3 linked regions of the Homo sapiens genome follow. The protein of the gene in region 2 interacts with the protein of the main gene of each other region in a pairwise test. Each region holds a gene or a part of one and is shown on either strand. Other genes may lie near its edges.

Evidence for each region. The genes of interacting proteins can lie anywhere in the genome.
Region 1: the proteins of CYTH1 (region 2) and FGF14 interact in binary tests that used the Homo sapiens proteins (3 or more experiments, as listed by UniProt).
Region 3: the proteins of CYTH1 (region 2) and BDNF interact in binary tests that used the Homo sapiens proteins (3 or more experiments, as listed by UniProt).

What each region holds. Positions count from the first base shown.
Region 1 is NC_000013.11:101,717,946-101,725,568, forward strand, and holds part of FGF14 (fibroblast growth factor 14), read right to left. Parts: intron 5,023-7,623; coding exon 4,886-5,022; 3' UTR 1-4,885. UniProt on the Homo sapiens protein: Probably involved in nervous system development and function.
Region 2 is NC_000017.11:78,673,745-78,681,990, forward strand, and holds the end of CYTH1 (cytohesin-1), read right to left. Parts: intron 7,299-8,246; coding exon 7,227-7,298; intron 6,601-7,226; coding exon 6,446-6,600; coding exon of another isoform or gene 6,442-6,445; exon of another isoform or gene 3,307-6,441; coding exon of another isoform or gene 3,279-3,306; exon of another isoform or gene 2,426-3,278; coding exon 2,347-2,425; 3' UTR 304-2,346; downstream 1-303. UniProt on the Homo sapiens protein: Promotes guanine-nucleotide exchange on ARF1, ARF5 and ARF6. Promotes the activation of ARF factors through replacement of GDP with GTP.
Region 3 is NC_000011.10:27,655,456-27,663,078, forward strand, and holds part of BDNF (neurotrophic factor BDNF precursor form isoform a preproprotein), read right to left. Parts: intron 4,818-7,623; exon of another isoform or gene 4,701-4,817; intron 4,204-4,700; exon of another isoform or gene 3,131-4,203; coding exon of another isoform or gene 3,110-3,130; coding exon 2,366-3,109; 3' UTR 1-2,365. UniProt on the Homo sapiens protein: Important signaling molecule that activates signaling cascades downstream of NTRK2. During development, promotes the survival and differentiation of selected neuronal populations of the peripheral and central nervous systems.

The DNA of each region.
Region 1 (7,623 bases), on a different chromosome or scaffold from region 2:
TAAGAAGAGTGTCAAAAATGTCCTCGGCATTTGTTTTCTCAGAAAAAGAATTTAGATATTGGAGAAATTATCATACCATAAAAAGTTCAAAATGTGATTCATCTAAAATTTTGGACAAAGATGAAAATATAGTCAGCTCTGTTCTAGTGTTCATTTAGTTAGAAACCATAGTACCGGAACTGTATTATAGTAGAAGTTAATGGTACCTAAACTCTAAGGAATGCTTTTTCTTTGAAAACAGAAATATTTTTACTTATTTCTGTCCACTATGTTTGTGTGTATGTGTGTGTTTGTGTGTGTATGTGTGGTTTTGATGCCAGCAATGCAAACACCAATATATCTATTAAGAAGTGATTGAATTTAGATTGGAAAAAATAAAATAGTTACATGTAAAGACATAAACTCTTTCCTTCTTAAATGTGATTTTCAACTCTATGATAGAAACTCCCTCTAAAAAACAAGCAGGGCAAGAACAAACTTACTTGTAATGGGTGAGAGAAAATAAGCAAATCTCATTGGCTCATTCCTGTTTTTAGGAAGTTGCAGTGGGATTAATGTCAATTGGAAGGGATGCAGCAAGTTTAGAGAAGGTGTTGGCACTAACGCTGCTTGTTTGGCAAATCATCATCACTGAGGTATTCCACCCAGAGACTTTTTCAAAAAAGTCAACTAAAGTGCTAAGTCATAAGAGGAGAGCCATTATACCCGTTGTCTTTCTGGGCTCCTTGAGTTTATCTGGATTCCAACAGCACTTGGAAAGTACCGCCCTCCACTACCTCAAATGCAAACACAATCTCTGCCAGTAGACATTGGAATTAGACTTAGTGAAAACCAGGAAAAAAAAAAAAAACTAAAATATAACTCAGCCTTAGTTTGCAGACTCAACTGTCAACACTTTGAAACCCTACTCCATATTCAAGAGAGTCAACAGGCCCTATGTCACATTGTAGGCTAAGAAACCTCAGCTATGACTACTATTTCACTCAAAGTAAGACCATGTACATCCTGGATTTTGATATGCCTGCATTTTGGAAAAAAAAATTGAGGATTTAGCCCAGTCGCTTTCCCTTGATATAGCCTTGTTCTGAATTAAAATGGAAAAAATATTTCAATTATTTTCATCTTGTTCTCAACTGGATGTTAGTCAATGTGGTCTCTTTTTGAATATGTATCAAATATTAATGATCCATAATATTAGGGAGATAATTTTAAATGAAGTGATACGTGTCTAACTTACTTAAAGAATAAGTTTTTGGTTTTTGCTTTTAAAGACAACCAAATCTGATATTGTTCATCCTGATAAAAATAACAACTTTTAGTGCTTAAAGCATTAATTAAGCAAGTGGCTAGGTATGATAAAGAACTTCTGCTTGCTCCCCAAGAGGCAAACTATTAGAAGAACTGGAGCGGGAGTCCTTTGGACCCATCGTGGATCTCTTTAAGCCACTGCTACCCAAAAACATTCAGGACAAGCAAACATTTAGAGCAAGAATCTCCAAATTCTTCAGGATTTGTAATGAAATGATGTTCAGTTCCATTTTGCTCTTTACATAGGGTGGAGAATTGTCATGTCTTCTCTAATTTTTCCAAGTAAAGTGGTAGCAAAATGTTTTAAAAAGCAATCTTATATTAGAAAACAAAAATGTTGTCACTTGAAATACCAAAACAACATTTCTGAGCGTTGTTGAGGGACTGGCAAAGCAATCAGCTACTATAACAAATCAGTAGAAATAACCCTCCCACACCAGATATGCATGCAGAAGGAATGGAGTATTATAGAGACTTGATACAATGGACATATGCACATGGAGGTACAAAACACACAGTCTAAATACAAATGAATTCCATCAGATTTACTATACGGAACATCAGTAGTGACAGATTGCACTTCTTACTTAATAACAGCAAACTTAATTTCTGAGGGGAAAAAAATGGCGAAGTCTTATCCCAAACAAATAGCAAGAGAGGTATCATCAAAGAGCTAAAATTTTCTTTGGCATGGTAAAGGGGGAAATTGAGTTTACCAACTTATTTACATGACATTTCTCTATATTGGTGAGTAATGCAATGCCATTTTGTTACATAAAGTTGTTTGATGTTTTTTAATATGCCTTCATATAAATATTTTATTCAATATGTTGTATTTGTGAATTTAACAAATGATATTAAACACAAACTACAATGCAGACAGACAAACTCTTTGTATGCAAATTAGCAATACATACCAACAGTTCTTGATACACAGGTACCTACTACATGCAGCTCATCATTGCTGTCCTCTTCCCATGCTACAGGTGAGACCAGACACAAAGTAAATGACCTAACTCAATTACAAATAACAAGGACCCCTCTGCAATATGTCTAAACATATATTAGAAGAAAGTATTTGACATCCTTCATAGGGATAAATGCCCTTATAGACACCCCATATATAAAACACAACAGAGATACACATTTACATAAATCTCAGTCATTTACAAAAATAAATCTTGTCTTAATTTAAACCAATAAACAGACTTGCAGGGGAAAAAGAAACCAGCAAGTAGGGCTAATTATCAGTAACAAATAGATGGGGGTGTTTGCTCTGTGTGTGTGTGTGTGTGTGTGTGTGTGTGTGTGTATATGTGTGTGTTTGTGTGAAGTGAAGTGTTGCTGCTGTAAGTAGTGTCCATAAGCCCATTTGACTGTATTACAAGTTAGTTAATTACTCATATAGTTGGCCACATATTATGGGATCTATGTTTTCTGAAAATAATTGGTTAATGGAAGTTATCTAATATATTTTAACTGTTCCTGTTAAAAACAATAGGCTTCAAGATGACATAACACCAAATCAAAAATGACCAAAGGAATCATTTTGTTTGTTAGATTTGTAATTTAGCATCATTGGCAATAAATCTACTCAAACGTTCTGCTAACTTTTTATTTATTCAAGTAGAATCCAATATGAAAATGAAATAAGCATAAACAAACAGTTAAATTTCTACTAAACCTTTAATCAGCTAAGCAGGCCAGAATTTTTTAATGCTGGGCAAGGGCTGTCATGAAGAAGATTTATGAAAGCAGTGACAAAATAATTTCCCAATAAATACAGTGCAGATGGGGAAAATGATGACTGGGTCATCCTCCCACATAGAAAGAATAACAAGAGGCCAGTACATTGATCCCACATATAATTTTCAATAAATGAGGTTCAGTTTGGTCTCAATGAACTCTTCTGAGAAGAAAACATTGAATTTTATTAGGTGTACACAGAGTTAACAAATAAATTCCCAAACAGTTTAGTATGAAACATTTTGAACCCCTTTAGATCCAATATTGAACATTTTGCATGGAATCTTCATTGTGTAGTCAACTGTTCCTGGCCTTTCTTGGTAGTTGTCTTCCCTAAGCTCAAACAAACAGTGTTAAACTAAAAAGGAAATTAAGAATGCAAAATAAAAGAAAATAAATGGAATGGACCAAAATCCTCATGGATGAATGTGTTGGTTTGCCTTTATTTTCATCTAGGATAATTCAACAGACTGTATTCTGAGATCATGGCAAGGCACCTCTAACCCAGCCACTGGGCAACATGAGCCCCAGATGCTGAGCTAGAGGCATGTACTGGTGAAATACACAGTACCGGACTCAGCATGCTGAGCTAAAAAAAATATTTTTCCTAATATGTCCAGTTTAAAAACTTGTCATTAAACACCAAAAATATTAAAGTCTAATTAATTTATAACTAACGTTTGCATTGCTGCTGCAGGAAAGAACACAACAGCCGTCTTGCCCATGCTCTGCTGAGTATGAGGGGAACGCAGCCAGAAACGGGGATGGCGTTAAGTTTGGTTCATTAAAAACAGGACGGAGTATATCTGAAATGGATTTAGGTAGCGCAATTCTTGTAGGTTATAATTACTGATTTTCCTTTTTTTTTTTTTCCAAATAATGAGAATTAATAGATGAAAAATGAACCTTAATCAGGCCTACAAGGCCTACAGAAATCTTTGGACCCACTTTCTCAAAAACCAGTGGGTCTTGCTCGCTGGGCAAGGCAAATGTTACCATTACCAGTAAGCTTGTGATATGTATAAAACACACACACACAAAGAAACTAGAGGGGGATGTCAAACACATATCATAGAGAGCTTCCCTGGATTGTGTTTGAGCCATTTCCCACCCAGGCAATGCCGACCTTGGGAGCACAGTATCTGCTACTGGACAGAGCGTATATGTGTGTTTAATCGATAGTGTGAGCCAGAGACAACAATCTTTCTTAATCTTTCTTTATAGATGCAATTTGTAATAATAGGTTTAGAAGGCTTCCTGATTCCCTGATTGCTCTCCGACCTAAGCCAACTGCAACATTTAAGATTTAGAGGAACAAAATCCCTGCAAAAGGTCACAGACAGTGGAGCGAGCAGCCCTGTAAAAATGGGAAGAAGAGAAATCCGTAATAGCACAGGTTTACAGCGTCTAACTAGAAATTACTCAATATTATTTGTGTGCTACAAAATTGAACTTAAACACATAGATTTCGCTGAAACAGGACTCAAAAAGGATTATGGGTAGCTGTCAGCAGGCAAGGTATCGAGTGTACTTGTGAAGTATGTCATTCACATGAAGTGTCACAGTCACAGAAAAGATATTAAAAAGGCATTCCATATCTGGTAGGGCATTCCATGGTCTGAGTTTAGCTGGTTATCCAGGTGTCTTCTTGTTGTGGGGGGTGCAACAGGTTGAGATTTATCCACTTGCAACAGAGAAGTTCGGAGACAGCAAAGAATAAGCATTAGCTTACTTCCTGCTGCTCTTCAGCCACGGAGCAGGAATGTCTGGTGAGGATAAATCACTCAACTGTGCTCAGGACGAATAAGTCACAACACCTGTGAGGATCTGGCTATGTTGTCTTACTCTTGTTGACTGGTTTGCCTCCATTCATTATTGCAGACGCACTTGTGCTTTTACTTGGCGTCACCCCAGGCTTCGGGACCGTTTCCCCAACATCATGCAAAGATGGTTCTCGGTACATGGCAACTAGTGATGGGAAGAAAGGAGGAGGAAAAGCAAACATTGCTTGGTTAGGTGTGAGAATGGTCCATCCATACCTGCATAGACCACTGCAGTTTGCCCATTTCTGTTTTCCCTGAAGTAAAGCAATTCCATTGAGACAGAATTCCTGTTGTAAAGCAATCATTTCCAGCCCACAGAGGACATTACTCCCTTCACATTCTCTGGTCTGTATACCTAAAATATGTATATGAGTGTGCATGGATTTTTGTCTAGGACAGCAGGTTTAAATGGGAGCTATGGCCTCTTTGTGGGTCCATGATGTAAAACACACACACACACACACACTATAGGAGAATGACAGGCATTTAACTTAATTCTCAAAAAAAGAAAACTCAGACATCCCTTCCACTGCACATTAATATCAACACATGAACTTCTCATTCACTTCAATCAATCTTTGTGAGCTGCGGTATTTACATCCTAGAACATTAAATTACTTTCTTTCATGTGGTTCAAAAGCAACATAGTCATACTAGTGTCAACTTCAAAGCTACACAAAATAATAACAAATAACTCTCTTCCCATAAGCCAGAGCCTTCAGGAGATTATCATTTCAATGTTCATTTCCTACAATCATGGAAAAAGACCCTTGGGCAGCAGAAGGCAACTCATTTTCTGCTATGTTATTAAAAATCTAATAATTGACATGATACAGGGGCAGAAAACAGAATGGCAAGACAGCAACTGAAACTACCTGAATAAACTCTGAGGATTTATCTAAATAGTGTCTGGTGGCATAATCATAGTAGTTCACGTGGCTTTTTAGAAAATGATTTCTGGAAGTCCTGAGAAAGGACATATAAGAGTGACTGATGGTTGGGGAAAACTAGGGATTAAAGTCATCTGCCATCAGAAATACAAGTGCATTAGAGCTGCCCAAACTGCTTTTTAGGTTTTTGAAAGTTTAAGGTATTTTACGAAGAGCCCTTAGATTTAGTTAAGATGAACTACCATATGCATTCCCTATGTTCAAGGGGGTAGAATGTGGCCTTTAGTATCAATGCATCACGTGAGTTTTCATCAGCACACATACTTGAAAGTGCAAATGTACATAAGGTTTCTATTAAATTACTTGCTAAGGTAGCAAAAGGAACTAATGCGTATCCTGAAAGCACATTCCAATCCCTCACTCCTATTACTAATTAAATTAGCAGACAAAAGCATGAAGCATTGACCTTGATTTTCTATGTAGTGAAGTTGTATCGTCCAACAATGATAGACTGGATTAAGCAAATGTGGCACATATACACCATGGAATACTATGCAGCCATAAAAAATGATGAGTTCATGGACATGGATGAAGCTGGAAACCATCATTCTCAGCAAACTATCTCAAGGACAAAAAACCAAACACCACATGTTCTCACTCATAGGTGGGAACTGAACAATGAGAACACTTGGACACAGGAAGGGGAACATCACACACACGGGCCTGTTGTGGGGTGGGGGGATGGGGGAGGGATAGCATTAGGAGATATACCTAATGTAAATGACAAGTTACTGGGTGCAGCACACCAACATGGCACATGTATACATATGTCACAAACCTGCACGTTGTGCACATGTACCCTAGAACTTAAAGTATAATAATAAAATATATATATATATATATATATATATATATATATAAAACAAAGATATGAATGCCCTAGAGTACCAATAATTAACCAGGTACTTAATTTGTCAAACATTTCCAATAACATTATTTATATTCGGTATGGGTTTTGAAAGTTTGAAATTAATTTTCCTCTATCAAGTAAACAATGTGATAATCTCTGTCGTTATAGTACCTACCCCCTTAACTGTTTTTAGAGTACTTCTGCTAATTTTTTGAAAACATAAAAAGTATTATTTCTCTCTTTCTCATATATATATATGTATATATACACACAAAACACTCATATACACATAACAAATACATGAGTGAAATACCAAGTATCATTCTATACCACATCATTGTTGTCTCAGATATTTTCTATGAGATATGCAAAATAACTGGTTCCCAAATTTTACCTCGGTTAAATGACATAACAGCCCTTTTGGGTTTTGTTACATTTATGCAGCTAAAGGGTAAGGTTCTAAAAATCTAGTCAATTCTTAACTATTTACAAAACATAAAATGAGTGAAAAGAGATAAAGCACGGTGGCAAATAAACAATGGTCTTATTAGAGCTTCTGTGGGCTTATTTTTTAATTTTTTATTTGCATTTAAATATAGGTGAGTCCAATGTTATCAAAATTTATTTAAAACAATGAAAGTGTATCATGGATGTGTTTTTTTTGGGAGGAACAGGGAAATCCTCTAACTTCTTTCTACTCTAATCATCCTTATGATCCACCATATACTGAGAATAATTCACTCATATTTCAGACTCTGGAATAATCTGTCTTTTCCTGTATAGGCCCTGGTAGCTAACTGTTTGGGTTTCAATAAATTGTTCTACAGAAAAATATAATTAAGAGTGACACTAAGTCAACATCATTGAAATTACAGAAGTAGTATTAGCCAACAAGAGCGATTTTCTGAATTTAGGCAAATTGAAAATTATACACTCACAGATGATG
Region 2 (8,246 bases):
TGGAAACTGAAATCATACTAAAAATGTATTATATTGACTGAAGGCATATTTCTTGATCTTAATTTAAAACTGATGTTTCACGTTTCTTCTAAAAAAGTGGGGGCGGTGCAAAGACTAAGTTACTTATCTTTTCTGACTCTGCTCTTCTTAACAGAAGACAGAACCCTCCTCCCACTTTCAAGGTGTTACAACTGAACTCAAGGTGCAGCTGGAGTAACACCCTCCTGCACAAGTGTCCGGTCAGCACCCCTTTCCCACCTCGAGGGCCCCGCCTGAGCCCAGAGACACCGCGAACAACAAAGATGGCTTGGGCAGAGTTGGAGTTTATTTGCTGCAGTTCCTTGGCGCTAGTTTACAAGGCAAAAACAAACAAACAAAAACAATTAGAATAATTATTTCTTAAAAACCCTGTCAACAACTTTCAGTCATTTCTTTATATTTTTGTATTTTGACAAAACTTCTTTTAAACAAATACAAAATAATCTAAAAGGAGAAAAACTATACATAGATTATTTACACCTCTGATAAATAGACTAATACTGACCCAGGTGCCTCTCTGTCTAGGAAACACTTGAGAACCAGGCCAGGGCCCGGGCCAGCTGGACAGGCTCCAGCACCGGCCCAAACACGCCCAGACCTCGGCAGGCACCACCTGGTTCTCCCACCCAGAAAGTTCAGGTTTCCAGCCTGGACCCTCTTCTGTCACCCTCACAAGCTCTGGCACAAAAGTGCCTAAAGCCATTCCCTCCAGGTAGGATCTACACAAAGTGGCGGGGAGGGAGGTGACAGACTGTCCCCCTCTATTCCTCCCACCACTCCTCTGCAAAAGCTATTTCCAGAGATGCTCGCCAACCCTAAAGGATCAGAGGAGCCGTGGCGACGCGGCCCTGTGAAAACCCGCAGCTCCTCCACCTGCCTCCTCAGGGCTGCGCCCTGCACCGCCCTGGTCCAGGGTCCTGTGGAGGGGCGGGGCGAGACGGCCAGACAGCCAGCCACCTGCTCTGCCTGGACTGGCATGCTGGCCCTGGCGGAGTGGCAGGAGCTGCCCTGAGAGTCCCTGAGAGAACGGCAGGAAAATGCTGCGTGTCACGGCTCCCTTCATACTGTAATGAGGAGGGGCAGGGCCAGCTCACACAGCGCCTGCAGGGGAAGACAGAGATGCGAGAGGCAGCCCGGCCACCCCCCTCACTCCAGTGCACCCCACGGAGCAGATAAAGGCCCATCTTCCCCTCTAGGGGGCCCACCACAAAATGCATCCAGAGTAGTCCAGTTAGGGCTGGTTTTGAGGCAGAAAAAGCTGAAGCCCTACGGGGATCGGGGAAGTCCTACTCCTTCCTCTAGAACGAGGACTGGAGTCTGGGGAAGAGGAAGAAAACCCAAAATGAAACAGGTTATCCGGAACCTCTGTCCCGATAACCTTCCTCACAGTTTTGGTTATTAGGTATTTAGCTCAAGGAAAATGCTGACTTTCTACTTTAAAGCCCAACAAGAACTTGGATTCTGAAGGAGGAAAATAACGTAAGCGTCCAGTCAGCTCTCTCCTCTCCTCGGCGCTCCGCAGGCACTTGGGATGGAAAAGCATCCGCGGGAGATGCCGGACTGCACGCTGCTGCCGACTGCGACCCCGGCCAGGGCAGGCCCCCGACTCTGACTGTGCCGTCTGAGGCTCCACTGGGCCTCTGCCCTCTGCGTCCTCGACCTCACCTGTCCATCTCGCCCAGACAAGCACCAGGCAGCGAGCTCCCACAGCACAGGAGAGGCAGGCCAGGCCCTGCCGCGGGCCCAGGCTGATGCCCCTTGGCCGCAGCCCCAGGTGCTCTTCTCCAGGGAGAAGCTCCCCAGCGCAGCCAGGGCAGAATGCACCTGAACAGCCCTACGTTCTCTCTTAAAAAAAAAAAAATAGATCTTTATAGTATGTGGCTTCTCTTCCTTTCCACCTTTTTCTCTTAACATATAATAATATATGGACACATGTATTTATGGTGCAGGGTTTGAAGGCTTCTTCACGGGGACAACCAAGAGGTAAACAGTTGGCTCTGAGCTCTGCTACCAGAACACTGAGCAGAGAAACTGGCCAGGAGGCTGCCCTGCCGACAAGAGCTCTGCCCTGTGAGAGAGGAAGGCTCTGGAGCCCATGCTGGACAGGTGGCCGGTCCTCTCTTCCCCAGTGATAACTGCCCACCCTTCTCCCACTTAAAAAAAATAGCAAAAGCTGAAGCTAGTCTCTAGGAATCCAGGGCGGGGCCTGGCAGAGGACGCTCTGCTCGGCAGCAGTGCATCCATGGAGGTGCGGGAGAAGAGCAGGAGCTCCAAGGCCCCCGCAGACCAACGCCCTTGGCTGCACGCTCAGTGTCGCTTCGTGGAGGAGACCTTCTTTTTCCGTGCTGCGAGCATTTCGTAGAAAGGGTCCCTGCTGATGGCTGCTCTGGAGCACAGAAAAGGGAGAAAACAGAGACGTGAGGGACAGAATCAGAAGAAACACACCCAGGCAGGGGATTCTCAGGGGCCCCTCGTGCCCCAGAACACCTGTCCCACCCCACCATCACTGCAAAGGCCAAGTTAGCGTCCTCCACCCTTGCTGTGTCCACACAGTGACCTAAGGTGACACACTTCGAAAGAGACACAGGAACACGTGACAAGAAAATTTTGGGGTTTTTACCTGTTTCAACATAATAATCAATTCACATTTAGGAACAGAATCATACCACATTCTTACAGCTATATTCCAATTCAGAGAAAAAGACTGGTGCTTGAGTTTCCATGATGACATCTGACTTTGCTTTGCAGCAGCGAGTGCCACGTAATCAAGCCGTGTCACATGCAGTCCTCTGGCACGGGGTGTGTGATAGCTGGCATGGTAATGCAGTGGGGCCTTCCAAGCCCCCCACGTGCACCTGCTCAGTAACTAAGGCTCCATGACTCTGCAGGCGGCACTGCCCAGCACGATGCTGCTGGTGGGGCACCATGGACAGACCGGCTGGACCTGGCTGGGTCTCCGGTGCACAGGGAGGGGGCCCGAGCTCATGCTTGTGCTACAGCCTCAAAGACAGCAGCGCAGGCCGCGCCGCGGGCTGGAGCACCTGCAGTGGACTGGCAACACCACAACCCTATGTCTGCCATTCTCGACTTTCAAGCAACTTATGGTCTAAAAGTCCTGACACTTAATTTCTTTCCAGGGAAGCTGTATCCTAAGTGATGATTTGTTCCAGAGCTCGGGCACAAGCCTCCTGACTGCAGGCAGGGCACTCACCCCTGCTGAACGGTGGCACCAGCAGCTGCTATGGCTCTCCTGGGCTGACCTGGAACCTATTCACAAGAGACAGTGTGTCCATGAGAAAATGCTTCCGCAGCTCCCCGGGGAATGCTAGGAACTGAAGAGCACTAGAAACATGTCCCGATGGGATCTCACTGGGAAGCGGTCTGACCACCTGAAGTGCTTTCACGAGGGAATCTGGCGGCCGGGACACCTGCTTTCATGTTTGGAGGTGTTGGGGTGAATCTCCCTTGGCTTCCTGGGTAGGCCAACCCTTTCGGGTAAGCTGGGGGGTTCTGCAGAGAGGTGCGTGTGGCACTGCCCTGTGTGCAGAGGCAGAGTGTCAGGCGATGAGGGGGGCTGGGCTGCGGTCGGACACCAGGCCCCAGGCCCGGCCCTGCCTGGCCCTGCCTGCTGCTTCTCAACTCCCGCTTCCTCACATGCAAGCTGGAGATGCCCCACCTCCACCTCCCTGGGTTCCGGAGAGTCAAAAAGAGATCCCATATTCAAAGAGCACATCTCAGCGCCTAGCCGACACACTCGATGGCAGCCGCTGTTACCGCTGACACGCAGTTCTACTGCTGTACCTCTGGGTACAGCGTGAAGAAAGTCCCAGCATTAGAGAACACACCTGATTCTACAGAACCGAATGCTGGGACCACCCACACGCAGGGGCACTAGAACTGAGGGTGCTGGGAACTCCAGGAAAAGCACTTCGTGAGAGGAAAACACGTCCTGAACTTGACCTCGAAAGCCTTTCTGGCAATACTGGGGAGGAGGCATCCACCAGCCAGATCATCTTCCTGCTCCTGTTGTCACCAATGTTTCCACTGGGAGGAGTATCTAGGGCCAAGGACAGCTGAGGCTGCACGGTGGTTACCAGTGCAGCTGCATGAGTCACACTGCTCAGGTTTGAGGACCAGCTCCACCTCTGTGGGGTTTTGGACAACTTACTCAACTTTGCTGTGCCTCAGTGTCCCTCATCTGTGAAATGGGGATAATCCTAATGGTCCCACCTCGCACTGGGTGCAAGAAGGTTTGAGGACAGTGTGCCTGCAGAGTGCCAAAGGGGGTGTCTGCAGATCCCGAGGCTGAGGCCAGCCCGCTCCGGGACAGAGCAGAGGAGTCCAGCAAGCCCACAGGAGAACTTGGCACTCACGCTCATGAAAGGATTGAATGATTCTAAATGTGACTTTGAAAAATGCTTAGTTTTTCTGACTATAGAAGTAAAAACCATATGAAAGACACATGTACAAAACCAGCCAAAACTGTTTTGAAAGACCAGTGAGGGAGGACAGGGAACTCGCCAGCCAGCACAGTCAAAGGACACCACGATGCCACAGGGGGAGGGGCGGGCGGCGCTCACGCTGGGAGGCGCGGTGGAGCAACAGGTGCATGAAGCGTGGTGGGGGAGCTGGGTACACTCTAAGGAGAGCATATGAAGTCAGTGGGGGCGATGCCAATGAATCCATAAATGGTGTCCGGACCATCAGCTATTCATTCATGAGAACAAACTTAAACCCTTACTTCAAATCTTATATAAAAAATACATTTCATAATGATTCAATAAATTTTTTTTTCAGTATGTTAAAAAAAAGGATACCGGTCCCCCACAACACTGCTGTTTTCTTCCCCAGAACACAGGGCTGGTGCCATTACTGGTAGGGGACTCTGAAAACACCGTGGCACCGCGTCTGCTCAATGGAGGGTGGGCTGGCCCCCGCTCAGGGCCACACTTCCCATGATGGCTGTCATGCCAGGGAAGCTGCCAAACCCCATGCCCACTACACAATCTCATTTAATCCTCAAAAGAGCCCCATGAGGCAGAAATGACCTCTATCACACAGAAGAGGTAGGTTACCCACCTACCAGGCACTGCGCTCAGAGAGACAGAGCGAGGAGTCTCAGCGCAGCGTGACCTGGCGCCAAATCCATCCTCTCTCCAGCTGGTTCCTGTCTGTTTTCATTGCATGAATTTTCAGATTACTTTTGAGAGGATAAATCATCTATTCCTTTCCCTCCATCATCACATCATCTCCATCTTCAGTCAGTTTTAAGGTATTTAGCTTGGGCCAAAACCTACACTGGTCTGAGTAGAAATACCAAAAGATAAAACAAAGGCTAGAGGATATTGCACACCCTCGGGAACGGGGCTGTAGCCTGGGTGGGAGAAAGCCCGTCACACAGTACACAGAGGACTTACAGGGACCTTCGCAGTCACCTGTGGGCACATTCTCCCTGTCTTCCAGGTGAAGTCACACAGGCAGCTGAGGAGTCTTTCTCAGGAAAACAGCTAGGTGAACTCTCATGGATGAAGCACCAGGAGGGAGAGGGCAAGGCTGTGCTCTTAGGAGAAAGGATCACTGAGAGAAGGCAAAGTCAGAATGCTCACTGCTGACCCTCGCACAGGGACTGGAGGGAGGAGAAAGCATCACTGAGAGAAGGCAAAGTCAGAATGCTCACTGCTGACCCTCGCACAGGGACTGGAGGGAGAGCCAGGCAGACCAAGTCCCAGGGAAGAACATTAAGCAAGAGAAGCCAACTGACTTTAGAAAGCCATGTTTCCAGATACTTGTCACATGAGGAAATTTCCAGCCCCGTGATAGACCTTACATGGCGTGGCCCAGTGGAGCCAACAGAGCCGAGAGGTAGGAGTCAGAGGCCTGGACTTGGGAGCTCCACTTCTTAGCTGTGGAACCCTGAGGAAGCTTCTCCCTCCTCCCGGACCTTGGATCACGGTATGTGACTTCCAGCAAATTTCTTAACCTCTATGGGCCTCAGTTTCCTCATCTGTAGCTAGGAAAATGGTGTCTCACAGGATTCACAAATTACAGAACATGACTACTATCTCCTCTGAGCTGTCACTATGAGAATGAGAGCGGCTTCGTCAGACACAGAAAGACCAGTTGAGCAGATGGCATCTGTGTGGGTAGCTCACTCGCCTCTTCCTATTTTGGGTCTATGAGGACACGTGGGGAACCCAGATGGGACGTGCTCTCTTACATATGCTATAATAGCCAAGAATCCAAAGGCCTCCTGGGAAGCCGTCAGCTGGGAACCAGGACGAAGCTTCCCTAAGAACTTGGAGCACAGAAGAGATGCGGGCGGCATGTTTAACCACTAAGATGATCAACACCTGGTGAGGTGAGGGCTGCACCAGGCGCGCACTGCCCTTTCTCAGCAGTCACTTACTTAATGCACTTAATCCACTCCTCCTTCTCCTCGGGCGTCGGAGCTGAGATCCGGTAAACAGTGTGGTTCCCCTCCACCACCCGCCCGTCAGCCTCGGTCTTGCAGGCCTTGATAACTTGGTCTTTATTGTCGGGGATATAAAGCTCAAAGCAGTTCTGAGAATCAAAACAGAGAGGGAGAGAGTGGAGCAAAGGAAGCTGTTAACTGAGAAACATGCTGATTTCTTTCCCCAAAACCCCTTTCTTCTGACCTTCACAAAATACAAGGAATACATATTTTCCTGTGGAAAAGTGAAGCCTAGAAGCGGAATTCTAGAGACTGTAAATTGTATAGAAGTCAGTCTCGTTTGCAAACACACCGGCCTGATATAAGCTGGCCCCACTTGCAATGTACGTAAAATGCGGAGAGAACTGCAGGTGACTCACGACTTTAACTTCAAGCCAGTAACATCCTGACAGCCCAAAACAAAGGAAAACTAAACGGGAGGTGTCCCAAGGGTATAAACTACATAGCCCACTCCTGCGTGCTTGCCGCTGCCATTGCAGGAGGGGCAACTTCTACACCCCATGTGACATTCACTAAGTGAAACGATAAAGCAGACAGACGGCACAGGAAGAAGTGATTTCGAGTCTCATCTTTGGCTTGAACAATATAATAAAAAATTAGACTAAATAAAAGCCTGATCACGCTTTTCAGTTTTTTGGTTTTGAGTTTTTTAAAAAAAATCTTTGAAATGCCCATCCCCTTTCTCCCCTCAAAATATCTCAGCAAAAATACTCACTGGTTTTTTGGAGTCCTCCACTTCCCGGATACTCAGATTCTCTAAAGGGATGATTCCACGGGGCTCCTTATCCTACAGAACAGTTGAAGAGAGGAAGTTTAAGATCACAGTTTAAGGACACACACTGTCAGATTCCTCGCCGGTGACTCAGCCGAACTTTCCTGCTTTCTCCCAGGACATGAAGTTCATAAATCAGCCTGAGGGAACTCCTTACATTCTAAACAAGAATAACACCAAAAATGTCTGAGGATTGTCAATATAACTGCTAAGTCCTCCGCGAGTAGAAAGACCAGAAGATTCAACAGACACCGTGAGAGTGTGGCCGGCAGTGACCCGGGCACGGTCCTCAAGCAGGGAGTGTGCGGGCCCCTTTCCCTCTTCCCTTTGCCTGGCTCTCCCACTCACCTCTGAAGCCTCAGTTCTGGGGCAACAACTCCAGGAAGCCTTTCCTAGTTTCACCCTAGCGCCCCGATGCCTGGGACTGCAGCTGTGGGTCTGACCATTAACCACTCACTGCCTCTGTCCATCGCCCCACCGCCAGACAGTACAATCCTCAGAGACACTGCCATCCTGACAACTCCACCTGGATTTCCAAAGGCACCTTGACTCCTGTCCAGAACAGAGCTGCACCCGCCAACTAGTCCCATCTCATCTACAGAGGGCACGGCACCGCAGACACTTCCAGCACACGCCTGACGGCAGTTTCACAGTCCCCTGATATCCAGCCAACCCATGGCCAAGTCCTAGCACTGTTAAAGTCTTTATATTTGGCCAGGAGAATGGTGTGAACCCAGGAGACGGAGCCTGCAGTGGGCCCAGATAGCGCCACTGCACTCCAGCCTGGGTGACAGAGCAAGACTCTGTCTCAAAAAAAAAAAAAAAAAACCAACCAGTTCTATGAGTTCTCTAAAAGCGAAAAAGAGTCTTTCAGCCATTTCCCCATCCTGGCTAGCAACTATTTCCAACTTCTTCAAGCCAACCTGCTTGGTCTTTACCTCTGTATCTCACACATCTCCAAAA
Region 3 (7,623 bases), on a different chromosome or scaffold from region 2:
ATTTGTCCCTCAAAAGGAAGCTGCATAAAGTTGACATACAGCAGATATTCCAAGCATTCCTTACATATTAAAAATAATTACAAAGATAATATTTTCAAACAACACAAAACAAATCTACACTACGTAAAGTCTTCCTTCTTTCAAAGAGGTATTCAGATGGTACTGTGAAAGACTAGCTCTAAATGAAAGACTGAACAAATTGAAATTCTTTGCTGATGGTATCTTCATTCCTGGGTTATGGTGAACATCCTCTTTTGCTTATCCCTCACCCTACTAAGATGCAGCAATTGCTTGGGGCTTTCTGATACTTAAGGATGCTGGTCCAAGTGGTGATCACTAACATTTTCAGGTGTGAAATGGGCTGAATGGGCTTAGAGCTCTAGTTTTCACTGGGGATCCATTTTTCCAAGAACCACTATTTCAGGCTCCCAACTTGACTTCTCCTAACCCAAAATGGCAGAGGTGAGGCAGGGACCCTCTCCATGAACAGACAGGATGGGCAGAAGGTTGCTGTGGCCTTCACTGGGGAGCAAAATTTTGTCAGCTCTGTCCTGGCCTCTTCCATTGAGCAAGGCACCTTCAAGTCTTGGTGTTCTGAATGTCCAGACACCTTCCCGAAGTCTTGTCTCTGGACAAGATTTCCTATGGGTCCCCTTGATCATTCGGCCTGAGTTTGGGGTTTCTTTTCCTGTTCCCTTTTCCCTTACCAAAAGTTCTCAAAAGATAAACCCTGGTTTCCTCAAGTCTAGTTTCAAAGCAATAAGTGTTCAGGTAGCAAACATCTTCTATCTCATTGCATCAATCTCATGATCACAAATGCCACATTTGGCTCCCAACCTGCTCCAGGCTAATCCAATTTTATGCAAAATTATCCAGAGGTGGGATGGTGGGCATAAGTCGGCTTGAGTGTGGTCCTCCAGTCGAGAACCTCTTGAGCACAGTTAGATAATGTAGGCACTTAAAGCACGAGGTCCAAGCAGCTTGACACATGTCATTCCAGAGCCACCTCTGAAGGGTCCTTCAGAGGCCTTCGTTTTGGAATGTCTCAAATACCATGCCCCACCTCCACCTAGACCTTGGGATGGCCACTCAGAAATTCCTCCCGCACTGCCGGTAAATGCAATGCCAACTCCACATAGCCTCCATTTGGCTGTTCAGTCTCATGTCACTGGCAATGTGGATTCCTGTTCTGATCTAGGTGTTTCTGGGTTGATACAGGGCTCTACCTTTTGCTTACAAGACATTGTTAAGCCTCACCATGAGTTTTTTTTAAGCTTAGCCATGATTTACCCAAATGTTCACTCCTCATAAAAAATAATCTTCATTTTGGGGTTATTTTTTGTTGTTTTCTGTTCTAAAAAAAAATCACTGTTCTCCATGCTTATACGAGTGTCATGATGTGACACAATGTGTTCACTTGTTCACAGCAGTGGTAAAATATTTCAGAACGCGCAACTGATTTTTCTTCCTTAAAACAAAACAAAGAGGAGACCAGAGGGGGAGGGGGGGAAAGAATGTGTTCTGAGCAAACATAGGTCCTTCCGTCAAAAGCAGCTTACTCTGACCAACGCCCAAAGAATGAGCGGGGCCTGGGAGGTGCATCACGGGATGTGGAGTGTGAGCATTTTTTTGTTCAGTTGCCTTAATTTTTATTCACTTTCTAGTCATCTGATCGATATTGCAAACATCTTCACAACATACAAATGTATCTTTTATCAGCCAGAATATATATTGTAGGAATTCTTTCCCCATCTCTACTCCCTGTGGGAACTAAAAAACAAAACAAACAAACGAAAAAAAAACACAAAACAAACAAAAATATACCCCCCATCCCCCATCCCCTAAGCCAGTAAAGCAATGACAACAGCACCTTGACATTGTTTTAATTCCAACGCTATCAGAAGTTAAAAGCAGTAAAACAGATATAGTACTAACAAGAACGAAGATACTTACTGTCTAAAATGTAAACGGAATGTTTTGGTTCAAATTTTTGTTGTGTGTGTGTGTGTTTTTTTTCTGTTTTCTGAAAGAGGACAGTTTATTATCAATTCACAATTAAAGCAGCATGCAATTTATTATTTTTTTTAACTTTTTATGTTTTCAGTTCTTGGCAACGGCAACAAACCACAACATTATCAAGGAATGTAATGCAGACTTTTTAAGTTGTGCGCAAATGACTGTTTCCCTTCTGGTCATGGACATGTCCAATAAATAGATTGTAGAACCACTGTACTGTATAAACTTCATTTATACATGCAGTTCATAAAATTATTTTTTTCTTAACTGAATAATTTACCCTGTTATGTATATATACAAATAGATAATTTTTGTCTCAATATAATCTAATCTATACAACATAAATCCACTATCTTCCCCTTTTAATGGTCAATGTACATACACAAGAAGTGTCTATCCTTATGAATCGCCAGCCAATTCTCTTTTTGCTATCCATGGTAAGGGCCCGCACGTACGACTGGGTAGTTCGGCACTGGGAGTTCCAATGCCTTTTGTCTATGCCCCTGCAGCCTTCTTTTGTGTAACCCATGGGATTGCACTTGGTCTCGTAGAAGTATTGCTTCAGTTGGCCTTTTGATACAGGGACCTTTTCAAGGACTGTGACCGTCCCGCCCGACATGTCCACTGCAGTCTTTTTGTCTGCCGCCGTTACCCACTCACTAATACTGTCACACACGCTCAGCTCCCCTCGGCGGGCAGGGTCAGAGTGGCGCCGGACCCTCATGGACATGTTTGCAGCATCTAGGTAATTTTTGTATTCCTCCAGCAGAAAGAGAAGAGGAGGCTCCAAAGGCACTTGACTACTGAGCATCACCCTGGACGTGTACAAGTCTGCGTCCTTATTGTTTTCTTCATTGGGCCGAACTTTCTGGTCCTCATCCAACAGCTCTTCTATCACGTGTTCGAAAGTGTCAGCCAATGATGTCAAGCCTCTTGAACCTGCCTTGGGCCCATTCACGCTCTCCAGAGTCCCATGGGTCCGCACACCTGGGTAGGCCAAGCCACCTTGTCCTCGGATGTTTGCTTCTTTCATGGGGGCAGCCTTCATGCAACCAAAGTATGAAATAACCATAGTAAGGAAAAGGATGGTCATCACTCTTCTCACCTGGTGGAACTGTAGGGAGAAAGCAGAAACAAGACAGAAAACTGGTTAGGGCTTTCTTTCACCGGGATGCCATGTGGCCCATCTGATTGTAATTCCAGGCCATTCTGCAGGGTCAAGGTTTTTTTATGTCTTGGTGATAAACTCCAGCTGCACCAGACACAAATCAGTGTCAGTAGTGTGCTGTATGTGGTTTAATATAAACCAGAGACATGCAGTGTTTCCCCCAAGATCTAGCATATAAACCTGAGATTAGATGGCTTCTAAGCAAGTGCAAAAATTGTGGCTTCAAGTTCTCCTTCTTCCCACTTTAGCAGCTTTGTAAGTTTAATTTTTAATGATCTCTGCTCATGCTGTCACGAGAAACACAAAATCATAAATGTTACTAAGCAACAACTGCAAGTGTAATTAATAGTAATTTTTTTCAAGTTAGCAACATGGTCCTTTGCAGGAATGTGTGACAGGAACAGCAGTGGCCTGAGGGGTCTGATGGGCCTTTCTAGCTATGTGATGTCTAGGCATGAATAGCACAATAAAACAGCAGTTGGGGAACTATAAGGAGCCTTTAAATTGACTTTTTTTTTCCTCTTCCCACAGAGATACTCTATTATAGCAAAGAAGAAAGATAATTTCATTGAGCCATCCTGTTTTACAGGTAAGGAAACCAAAGGCCATAGAAGACTTGCCTTATGTCATGAAGAAAGTTTATGTTAGAACTCAGGGCTCCCAATTCCACTGTTCTTTATTCTACACCTGGGTGGTCACAACTGAAAATGTTTTGCTTATTTCTAAACAGAAATCATTTTTTGACATGTTCATTTTAATGATGTGTCTATGCCTGGGGCTAATGTCATGAAAACAATGTGTCTGGTAAGGAGAAAACTGAAAAAGTCAGCATTAAAAAGACATTTAAGTCCATTTCAAATGCCTCCCATATGCAGACTCCACTTTATCTCCTCCAGTTCTCTAAAACCCTTCACTCCTTGGCTTTTTCTGGCTAATACACACATCTAGCTAAGAAAGCTCAACTTTTCTTTTTACTAGAGATGTTCTCTCTGTGTGTGTGTGTGTGTGTGCGCGCGCGCGTGTGCGCGCGCTCTGAGTTTATCCTACTTTTAAAAAGCTGAGTGGTGTTTTACACATTTTGGAATAGGCAGCTAGTGCTTCTTTTTCTGCTTTTGAAGTTTCCTGGGAAGTCCCTTAAAAGCATACCACAAAATTAATCTCTTCCTGTTTGCCAGAGGGTTGCTCTACTCTAAATTTGGCTCTACATCTACAAGCATGCTCTAGGAAGCCAATTAAAATGGATGAACAAGCAAAATGAAAACATACCTATGGACCAACCCAAGGTTACCGTCAGGTGGTGAAGGACTTCAGAATCACTTACCTGAAGCATTGTGTTTCTCAGCAGCAAAGAGTAGCATCCCCAGCCCTGACCCTAATTTTATTCCTACTTCTCAGTTCTGAGGCATGGACTTACAAAAAGACACATACATGCAATGGCCATCATGATATCCAAATAAGTAGGAAAAGGAACTGTGTTTCTGCCCATGAAGTTTTACTGAATTCAAAGGCAACCTACCTCCAGTCAATAGGTCAGAATGCAGAAATGGCTGAAAACTCTGGTATTGAAAAGCAAATGTTCTCCACTTTTGTAAGAAATAACATTTTCAACCACTAAGAGACTTTATTACCATCCCTAAACACACAAAAAAATTTCTTTTAGATTTACTCTCACTTTGCACGAATAGCAAACATGCTTAGAACTGCTTAGATTGCACAATGTTCTCAGATTAGGAAGGGAAAATTGGTTTGAATAAAATACAGATGTCTATTCCGCTAACAACTAAATCTTTGTGAATGTTCTGAGTCCTGTACCATCAAAGAAATAGATCGTCCATGGGGGTTTCTATTTCTGGTAGATTGTACTTACACACTGAATGAAAAAGCTTTCTCCTAATATTCCCAGTCCAAATAAAAACAACCCAAGGGGCACCTCTTATTTAGGTCAATAAAAGTTTGCAAATGTGGAATACTTTAGCCATCTACATCACACTGGTAGAGACTTTCTGTGATCAGCTATTTTTTAATACCATATTTAATCAAATCTAAGATACCATCATTGTGAAACTCGACATTTTATATATCACTAAGAAAGCAAAAATGCAGCCTGGGTGACCAGAGTGAAACTCCATCTCAAAAAAAAAAAAAAAAGAATTAATGAACTATAGTTTAATACATATTTACTAAGTGCCCACACTAACTACTTAAAAATGGTCCAAAATACTGAGGCATCTTAAGCTGTTGGAAAATTGTTTTGTTTTCACCACTACAGTAATGAGTCTTTGAATGATACCATTTTCTATACTTGGCTTCTAGTTTACTCTGCCTTTCACTGATCTTATCTTTTTATTAATAACTTTATGAGAAAAATAATTAATGCTTTATATATTGTTCTCTCAGTTCCATGAGCAAATATTTCAGAGGGAAAATTGGCATCTGAGTAAATATTACTTGGCTTTCATTCTGAAGCCCAAACATGGGTATTCCTCAAGCTGAGCATCTGCATAGAATTAGGAATTAACACAATGGTGACAAAGTCCAACCCCACATTGCAAGCCCTGCTCTCTGAGTGGCACTTCTGCAATTCTAACTAACTGTCTACTCACTTGTAAGGCCTTGAAGTTAAGTGGGTGCAACACCAAACTCAATACTTTTTGTTGGAACAGTGGTATCTCCTACCTTTTCTAACAATGGTTCCCTGATATTTTGGGCAACCCAGGCATAGGATAGAAATCCTGGAATCAAGTTTGACAATATATTTCCTGCATAGCCTTCCAATCCAGTCAGTAAAGATGTCCTGTTAATTTTTCCTTTAAAATATTTGTCCTGGCCATCCCTTTTTATCCATCCCACTGCCACCATCTTGGCTCAGCCCTCACCACCTCATTTTGTGACCACAACGTCCCGATGCTGTATCAGACACTCTTTCTGCTCCATTCAACTCTGATGACCACTTCCTGGGTAACCACCCTAATACTATTCTCTTACACAAAAACTGGCAATGGCATTTTTGTTCTATCTGCTCAAATCTAATGTCTTCTCTCTGATACTCAACTCTCTCCAACATCTGCCCTCACCCTTCTTAGCTAACTTTCTCAAACTACTCAATGCTTCATCACTTCTGCTCCGATCAGGACAGAGTCCTTGGAGTGCCGTACACATTACTGCCTCCTGACTTGTTCCATTCCTCTGACAAACTCCTCTCTCCCTCTCACTTGCTGCCAAAATCTTGCTTATCCTTCATGATCCAGTTCAAGCATCAAATCATGCATGCCCCTTTCTCTAATTACTCCAGCATACACTGCCTTCCTTCCCTAAAATTCCACATTACATCTTACGTAGTACTTGATTCCCTTCTCACTTGTTTTGTTTTGTTTTTTTCCCAAGACAGAGTCTTGCTCTGTCGCCCAGGCTGGAGTGCAATGGTGCAATCTCGGCTCACTGCAATCTCCACCTCCTGGGTTCAAGCAATTCTCCTGCCTCAGCAGGAGGTAGCTGGGATTACAGGCGCCCACCACCATGCCCGGCTAATTTTTGTATTTTTAGTAGAGACAGGGTTTCACCATGTTGGCCGAGCTGGCCTACTCACTTGTTAATTGTTAACCGTATTTGCTCATTCTAGTCAGTCTTCAGCTGAAAGGTAAGTTCTTTGAGGGAATGGATCATGTCTGAGCCCCCATAATGCTTAACAGAGAAAAATGTAATAGCAGTACTCAGTAAAAACTTACTGATAGGTTTATTAAACTAAGAGAAAAGACAGTTTGGATATAATTTTCGTAAGAAGCCTTTTCATTTGGAAAGATCAGTGAACCCATTGAAATTCTCAGGTAAATATAGGCTGTGCTAACCCCAAATTATAAACTCTAAGGCAGTGGTCCCAACCTTTTTGGCAGCAGGAACCAGTTTTGTGGAAGACAATTTTTCCACGGTCTGGGAGTAGCAGGGTGGATGGTTTTGGGATGAAATGGTTCCACCTTAGATCATCAGTTAAATTATCATAAGGAATTGGATTCTCATAAGGAGCACACAACCTAGATCCCTTGCATGTGCAGTTCACAACAGGGCTCATGCTTCTATGAGAATCTAATGCTGCTGCTGATCTGAAAGGAGACAGAGCTCAGATGGCAATGTTTGCTCACCCGCCGCTCACTTCCTACTGTGCAGCCTGGTTCCTAACAGGCCAGGGACTGGTAACAATCCATGGCCTGGGTGTTGCGGATCCCTGCTCTAAGGAATTTGACAGATAGCAATTATCAGCCATGACCAACTTCTTGAGTTCCTCTAATGGAATAAAACCTTACTTGAATAATTAAAAAGCAGATAACACTACCACATACTAACTGTCCTACAATTTCCTGTGTAGCTCTATTTCTAACAGATCAATAAGAGACTTGGGAAGTAATAACAATAATAATAGCAAAATTTGTAGTTTTCAGCCTTTT